Regions from separate parts of the Homo sapiens genome. Here regions 1 and 2 are each linked to region 3. The links come from fine-mapping of genetic effects on gene expression. A gene starts in region 3. Each other region holds a variant in brackets. All regions are shown on one strand. Distances are between the middles of the regions. Region 1 overlaps MTHFD2 (methylenetetrahydrofolate dehydrogenase (NADP+ dependent) 2, methenyltetrahydrofolate cyclohydrolase). Region 2 overlaps MOB1A (MOB kinase activator 1A). Region 3 holds the start of MOB1A (MOB kinase activator 1A).

The links. PIP is the estimated chance that this variant, and not a neighbour inherited with it, causes the effect.
Region 1: its variant is the best candidate, but not a certain one, in a credible set for the expression of MOB1A in monocytes after LPS (Quach 2016, PIP 0.54).
Region 2: its variant is the best candidate, but not a certain one, in a credible set for the expression of MOB1A in monocytes (Quach 2016, PIP 0.82).

The regions. Positions count from the first base shown.
Region 1 is chr2:74,207,555-74,210,309 of GRCh38, reverse strand. It overlaps MTHFD2 (methylenetetrahydrofolate dehydrogenase (NADP+ dependent) 2, methenyltetrahydrofolate cyclohydrolase), which reads right to left. Exons shown (of 8, transcript NM_006636.4): 3 at 2,484-2,606; 4 at 1,589-1,741; 5 at 261-368. Among named protein-coding and RNA genes, the nearest start is that of MTHFD2, 10 kb to the right of the region's middle. The variant C/A (reference allele first, on the strand shown) is at 1,134.
Region 2 is chr2:74,157,198-74,159,959 of GRCh38, reverse strand. It overlaps MOB1A (MOB kinase activator 1A), which reads left to right. Exons shown (of 6, transcript NM_018221.5): 5 at 706-869. Among named protein-coding and RNA genes, the nearest start is that of BOLA3-DT, 11 kb to the right of the region's middle. The variant C/T (reference allele first, on the strand shown) is at 1,382.
Region 3 is chr2:74,177,526-74,180,287 of GRCh38, reverse strand. It overlaps MOB1A (MOB kinase activator 1A), which reads left to right and starts at 1,409. Exons shown (of 6, transcript NM_018221.5): 1 at 1,409-1,627. The coding sequence starts at 1,614. RefSeq lists a silencer at 1,648-1,837 and an enhancer at 1,701-2,384.

The sequences.
Region 1 (2,755 bases), 30 kb before region 3:
CTAATTGCCTACAACCATGCTTATACTCAAAACTTAAATTTATTTCTGAAGCTAGTTACATGATAAATGAATAATAAAGAAACTCAGGTGACACTGGGTGCAGCTTCTCTACAAAGGTTACTCCCTGAATTGTCTGTTAACAAAATTTCAACAAATACAAAGTATAACAGAGTTAATACTTCCAAACATGCACAGGATGGCTTCTGAAAGTTCTTACATGGGGAAAAAAGGACAGTGTTCCCTGAAAGCAATTTCCTTACCTCCGGGACGTTCATGCGCCCCATCTGTGTGCAGTAACATTGCAATGGGCATTCCAACGTTTTTTGACCTTCCAGCCACAACCACATTCTTCCCTAGGGTTGGAATGCCTATAAAAATATATGTATTGACATTAAAAGTAGTGCCAGTCCAAAGGAAAACAAAGTCAGATGGCCTAGAACATGAACCCAATTTTGCCTCATCAGTCAACTGGAGCTGTAACTTGCTACACATAATAAGGGCTAAAAGAAAACAGGAGAAAGCATACTACAGGCTACAAAATGTTACAGGAATGTGCACTGTCACCACTATCAAATCTTAAATTTCCTTCACTGAGGGCTGGGGCGGTGGCTCACACCTGTAATCCCAGCAGGAGGGAGGATTGCTTGAGGCCAGGGAGGCTAAGGTAGGAGAATTGCTTGAGGCCAGGAGTTTGAGACCAGCCTGGGCAGCATGATGAAACCTCTGACTCTTAAAGAAAAAATTAAAAAGAAAAATAGAGGCCACGCGCGATGGCTCACACCTGTAATCCCAGCACTTTGGGAGGCCAAGGCAGGTGGATCACAAGGTCAGGAGATCAAGACCATCCTGGCTAACACGGTGAAACCCCGTCTGTACTAAAAATACGAGAAAAAAAAAAAGTTAGCCAGGCATGGTGGTGGGCACCTGTAGTCCCAGCTACTCAGGAGGCTGAGGCAGGAGAATGGCATGAACTCAGGAGGTGGAGCTTGCAGTGAGTCGAGATCACGCCACTGCACTCCAGCCTGGGCAACAGAGCAAGACTCCGTCTCAAAAACAAAAAAAAAGAAAAAGAAAAATAGAAAATTTCCTTCACTGAGACTTCTGGATTAAAAAGCAAAAACTGTCATAGGCAA[C/A]TGTTAAGGGCAGGCACGATGGCTCATGCCTATAATCCCAGCACTCTGGGAGGCTGAGGGGGCGGATCACCTGAGGCCTAGTTCGAGACCAGCTTGGTCAATATGGTGAAACCTGTCTCTACTAGAAATAAAAAAATTAGCTGGGCATGGTGGCACGTGCCTGTAATCCCAGCTACTCAGGAGGCTGAGGCATGAGAATCGCTTGAACTCAGGAGGCAGAGGCTGCAGTGAGCCAAGATCGCGCCACTGCACTCCAGCCTGGGTGACAGAGCAAGACCCTGTCTCAAAAAAAACAAAAAACAAAAAAAAAACTGTTAAGAGAGGTAAACTTTGGGGAGTAAGACTAGAGGATATGCAGTAGGGTTTCCACTCTTTGGGACTGTATGAGTTTTTACCATTTGCCAGTACTACTTTTATAATATTAACACAGACATGCAATTCTGGGATATACCTACCAGTTCGCTTGATTATTTCCCACACACCCCATGGAGTAGCCGGTAACATGGAATACTGATCCAAACACATTCGTCCTACATTAATTACATGAAAGCCATCAACATCCTTGTCTGGAGAAACAGCATTGCAGATCCTTCTCTCATCAATATGCTCTGAAAAAGAAATTGGCACAGTTGCCTTAAATCACCACCGCATAGTCAGCACTGCCTGACTCCAGCTTATCTGCTTCGCAAGGAAATCTATTCTTCTACAGCTTGCCTCTGAGATGTACTTCATCTGCATGGAAGGAACTCGCATAAGCAAAGCCAAACACCAATAGCAAAGCCAATATCGTCTATCACAGCTGCTTCCCTCCACTGTCCTTTGTATCAAGACCACAATACTAAATCAAGGCGTAATTGGTATTCTGAGTTGGTCTGTCCCATTTCTAATAAAATATTCACTCTTTTGAGTTTATTTTGCCTTTAAGCCAAATCCACATGAAGAACCAGGTGTATAAAGTAACAAGGCCTTTTTACCCCTCAGAAACCATTTTAGGTAGGGCATGGTAGTTCATGCCTGTAATCCCAGCACTTTGGGAAGCACAGAGTCCAAGACCAGCCCAGGCAACACAGACAGACTTTCATTTCTAGGAAAAATGTAAAAATTAGCTGGGCATGGTGGACATGCCTATAGTCCTAGCTATTTGGGAGGCTAAGGCAGGAGGATCCCTTGAACCCAGGAGCTTGAGCATGCAATGAGCTATGATTGTACCATTGCACTCTAGCCTGGGTGACAGAGTGAGACAAGGAAAGGAGAGGGAGGAGGAGGGGGATGGGGAGGGAGAGAGAGAGGGAGGGAGAGGGAAAGGAGCAGAAGCAGCAGCAATCATGTTAAATGGAGTCCAAAACTCACCTGGAAGAGGCAACTGAACAAGGAGGCCATCTACATTATCATCATTATTCAGTTTATTGATTAAATTCAACAATTCTTCCTCTGAAATTGAAGCTGGTTTCATAATTGTCTCACTGTTGATTCCTATTATAAGAAATTTTGAGGTTAAAAAAATTTTTGAGGCATTTAATGAGCACTGCTATGTTGCCTACCATACTTGGCTACCATACGGGTTTTGTATCATCACACTCATCCCTAAAAGCTGAAGTAGCTCAAGGAACCTAAAAAAGTAA
Region 2 (2,762 bases), 20 kb after region 3:
CTGTAGTCCCAGCTACTTTGGAGGCTGAGGTGGGCAGATTGCTTAAGCCTGGGAGGTGGAGGTAACAATGAACCATGATCATGCTACTGAACTCCAGCCTGGGTGACAGAGTGAGGCTCAGTCTCCGGGGTGGGGGGGGGGACAAAAAACAAAAAACTAAAACTACAGGATTTTTGAACTTTGATTTAGCAGCATCTTACATAATTTGATACCTGTGCCTAAGGCAGTCAGAAAAAAGTGTGGTACTTTGTGAGGATTGGGGTTTGGGTTTTCATTTCCTTGGCTTTAAAAAATATATACAGAGGTAGGTTTGTGTGTATTTATGAATGTGTGTGTTTATATGTTGCAGGTGCTCATGGCAGTGTGTAAACTTTCTGCTGTTAGGCTGGGCATGCCTGTAATCCTAGCACTTTAAGAGGTTGAGGCGGGCAGATTGCTTGAGCTCAGGAGTTCAAGACCAGCCTGGGCAACATGGCAAAACCCCATCTCTACAAAAAATACAAAAAATTAGCTGGGCATGGTGGCGTGTAGTGCAGGTTATTTGGGGGGCCAAGGTGGGAGGATCAGTTGAGCCCAGGAGGTCGAGGCTGCAGTGAGCTGAGATTGCACCACTGCCTGAGTGACAAAGTGAGACCCTGTCACAAATAAACAACTTTCTACTGTTAGATAACCAAATAATTGTTTCATATGTGTATTTAATTGCAGGTGTCCCATTTCCCAAAAACTTTATGTCTGTGGCAAAGACTATTCTAAAGCGTCTGTTCAGGGTTTATGCCCATATTTATCACCAGCACTTTGATTCTGTGATGCAGCTGCAAGAGGAGGCCCACCTCAACACCTCCTTTAAGCACTTTATTTTCTTTGTTCAGGTAAGTTGATCCATGTTGATTTCTGTGTCCTGTGACTTGGACTTATTTGGATTGGGAACTTCAACAAAGAGCTGTGTGTCTTAGTTATAGATGTAGAGCCAATTACAGGCAAGCTTCTCTTTTCTGTTTTGTTCTCTTTTCCACATTATTTATTTTATTGATGTGTGCAGCAGTATAAAAAGGTATCACCCCCATTTGGGCCTTCTGCCTCTGGCCACCCTAGGTCTGTGGTTAGGATTATCCATTCAGGGTTGTGGCCTGTTGCTTTGTGGACCCTTAGTCAGAATTGGAACTTTTTTTTTTTTTTTTTTTGAGACAGGGTCTCACTCTGTGGCCCAGGCTAGAGTGCAATGGCGTGATCTTGGCTCACTGCAACCTCCGCCTCCTGGGTTCAAGTGATTCTCCTGCCTCGGCCTCCCGAATAGCTGTGATTACAGGTGCCCACCACCACCCCCAACTAATTTTTGTATTTTTAGTAGAGACGGGGTTTCCCATGTTGGCCAGGCTGGTCT[C/T]GAACTCCTGATCCACCCACCTCGGCCTCCCAAAGTGCTGGAATTACAGGCCTGAGCCACAGCACCCGGCCAGAATTGGAACTTTAAAAAATCAAAATAATTCACATTGTTTGAAAAAGATATCAAAGAATTGGTATGCCTTTAGCCTAACTTTAGAGATACTTATATTTTGCATATTGAATTACATATACATGTCTGTCTAGATATTTTATGATGAAAAAACCTGGTAGCTTTATAGTAGATACTGTGTATTATAGTTTTGTGTACTGTACCATGCTCTTCCTGATCTTCCTTCTCAGATTGTTGCATAAAAGGTCTACTGGCCCTTTATCAAAAATTCAGTTTGTAGTTTTCAGGTAGTTTCTTTTTTTTTTTTCCCCCCTCTTTTTTTTTTTTTTGGAGACAGAGTCTTGCTCTGTCGCCCAGACTGGAGTGCAGTGGCACGATCTCGGCTAACTGCAACCTTTGCCTCCTGGGTTCAAGCAGTTCTCCTGCCTCAGCCTCCTCAGTAGCTGGGATTATAGGCACCTGCCACCACGCCCGGCTAATTTTTATGTTTACTAGAAATGGGGTTTCACCATGTTGGCTAGGCTGATCTCGAACTCCTGACCTCAAATGATCCACCCACCTTGTCCTCCCAAAATGCTGGGATTACAGGCATGAGCCACCATGCCCGGCCTTTTTCGGGTAATTTTAATGTAAATTTAAATATATATACAGTTTTGATTTTAATGTTTAACACAATGAGGATCATACTGATACCTAGAGTTGGTTCTTTAATAAGTCTCCCATTGTAAAAATATGGGAAAAAACAAACTCCCTTTATCCTACTATACTCTCACCACACAGAACGCTTCTGTGACCAAACATGGGGACTGTCCCTCACACACCAAGCAAGTGATCATTTCTACAGTGGACACCAGATGAATGTCCTATAATTTGATTCAATTTTGATAATGTCTATCTGGAGGTAGCATCAGATCCTACAAGTTTGAGAGCTCAGTCCCACAAGACTGCCCCCCATTTGGGATATCAATCAAAAGTAATACATTGTCACCTATACCTCTGACTATAAACCAGGGTTCCCACAACCCCCTCCTTGGGTTTGATTAGTTTGCTAGAGCCGCTTATAGAACTCAGGGAAATACTTATCTCTACCTGTTTATTATGAAAGATGTTAACAAAAGATACAGATGAACAGCCAGATGGAAGAGATGTGTAGGGCCAAAGGAGAAGGGGCTTCCATGCTCTCTCCAGGCATGCCATGCTCCAGGAACCTCCACGTGTTCAGCTATCTGGAAGCTCTCCTGAGCCCTGTTTTTTGTGTTTTTATGGAGGCTTCATTACTTGCCCATGATTGATTAAATAATTGGCCATTGAT
Region 3 (2,762 bases):
TGTTTTTGTAGAGGCGGGGTTTCACCATGTTGCCCAGGCTGGTCTCGAACTCCTGAGCTCAAGTGATCCGCCAGCCTCAGACTCCCAAAGTGCTGGGATTACAGGCGTAAGCCACAACTGTGCCTGGCCAGTAATGAAGCTTTGATACATGCTACAATATGGGTGCGTTTTAAAACATTATGCTAAGTGAAAGAAGTCAGTCACAAAAGACCACATAATGTATGCTTCCATTCACAGTGTATATGAAATGTCCAGATTAGGTAAATCCATGGAAATAGAAAGTAGAGTAGTGGTTGCCAGGGGTTGGGAGGAGGGAGGTGGGTAATAAAGAGTAACTGCTAATAGGTATGGGGTTTCTTTTCGGGGTGATGAAAATGGCCTAAAATTATGGTTAGGCTGGGCGCGGTGGCTCACGCCTGTAATCCCAGCTTTGGGAGGCCGAGGCGGGTGGACCACTTGAGGTCAGGAGTTCAAGACCGAGACCAGCCTGGCCAACATGGCGAAACCCCGTCTTTACTAAAAAAAAAAAAAAAAAAAAATACAAAAATTAGACGGGTGTGGTGGCGCACGACTGTGATCCCAGCTACTCGGGAGGCTGAGGCATGAGAATCACTTGAATCTGGAAGGCAGAGGTTGCAACGGGCCGAGATTGCACCACTGCATTCCAGCCTGGGTTACAAAGTGAGACTCTGTCAAAAAAAAAAAAAAAATTAGTGCTGATGGTTGGCACACTTTGAAAACATAAACAAAGCCGGAGGCAGTGGCTCACACCTGTGATCCCAGCATTTTGGGAGGTCAAACCAGGAGGATCCCTTGAGCTCAGGAGTCCAAGACCAGCTTGGGCAACACAGTGAGACGCTCGTCTCTGCAAAAACTTTGAGAAAATTAGCCGGGCGTGGTGGCAGGCACCTGTGGTCTCAGCTACTCGGGAGGCTGAGGCGAGAGGATCACTTAAGCCCAGGAAGTCCAGGCTGCAGTGAACTGTGAACTCCAGTCTGGGCGACAGAGCGAGACACCTCAGAAAAAAAAAAAAAAAAGAAAGAAAAAACCGAAAAAGACCACTAGAGGGTACATGTTTAAAGGACAGATTTTATGCTATGTGAATATATTTCAAGTAAAAATTAAATTAACAATTTTAAAAATTGCAGGAGTACGCAGCGCTTATAGAGGTCCCTGCATAACCTAGGGAGCGGGATCGAAACCCAGCAGCACCAAGATACTCTAAGAGCAGGACCAGCCACTGCCCCTTCCGCAGGACCGCCATCCTCGCCACGCCTCCGGGGGAGGGAGGTCCTGGCTTGGAGAGCGATGATTGGCCGAGTTCTAGGACGAGGCGGAGCGAAAGGGGGCGCGACAAGTCCCTCCCGGCGCAGCGAAACCTTAGCTCGCGAGATTTTGTTGGTTCCGCATTTCGGGTCTGCGAGGTGGGGTAGGCGGGCAAGGCGGGCGCCGAGGTTTGCAAAGGCTCGCAGCGGCCAGAAACCCGGCTCCGAGCGGCGGCGGCCCGGCTTCCGCTGCCCGTGAGCTAAGGACGGTCCGCTCCCTCTAGCCAGCTCCGAATCCTGATCCAGGCGGGGGCCAGGGGCCCCTCGCCTCCCCTCTGAGGACCGAAGATGAGCTTCCTCTTGTGAGTGGGGTCGGGCCGCGGGCGCCGGGCCTGCGGGCCGAGGTTGTGGGGGAGGCCTCCCCGGACCTGAGGCGAGGGCTCGGCCTGGGGGCCGAGGCGGGGGCGGGGTAGCTGGCGTTTGTTTTGCCTCTGTTCGGGTCCGCGGGGGAGGCCGAGATGTTGGGAGAGGCCGACAGAGATGAAGGTCGAAGTAAAGGAAACGGAGCGTGAAGGCTGGGGAGTAGAAAGGCCCCGGGGCCGTCGCGCCTCCAAACTTTTCCGCCCGAGCGCCCCCGAGGGCGGGGAGACGATCTGGGGGCGGAGCCGCGAGCCCCCAGTTTCTCTTGTCTCGAGCTTCTAGAAACCGTCCTTGCCGACTTAACTCGTTGCTCGGTTATAGGTCCAGTTTCATTATTGTCGGTGTTAAATGCCGCCCCAGGAGAATGTGCGTTGCCGCAGTTTGAGAAGCTTGAAGTTAAGATGCTGGCCTTGGAGTCGGATCGTTCTGTCCAGTTCTGATTCTGCCCACTTACTGGCTTTGATTTTAACCAACTTCTCTTGTCCTCGGTAGAATCCTGTGTTTTTAATCATTATGTAATATACCATACAGCATTATTATATAGTACATTGCAGTATTATAAATAATTTGGAAAGTTAAAACAAATTCATAGTCCCATTGCAGAAACACAGTATTGCCATTTTAGTGCACTACAGCAATTAACTTGATAGGCATACCTTAGAATCTCATTTTAGAGATAATGCCTGAGCCCAACCAAACAAGGCTAAAATGAAAAAGCTTGTAAATTCCCTGATGATTCTTATGCACATTAAGGTTTGAGAAGCATTGCTCTGGCACAGTATTTTTTATTCTCAGGTGTCTCTCTCTACCTTGTATATTGCTTAAATGTGTGTTTTGTGATTGAATAATTATCCAATTTTAGTTATGGATGTAATCCACATGCTTGACATTTTTATTAAATACAATATAAAAACACTATATAGTTTTTTTTTTATTTTTTATAACCAGAGTTTACCCACTTTATTGTGAGAAACTGGGATTCCTTCCAGTATTTACTATTATAAAATAGCACTACTCAGAATATGTTTATCTGCGTCTCATTTTCCTTCCTTTGGGTTATTCTCGTAAATGAATGGT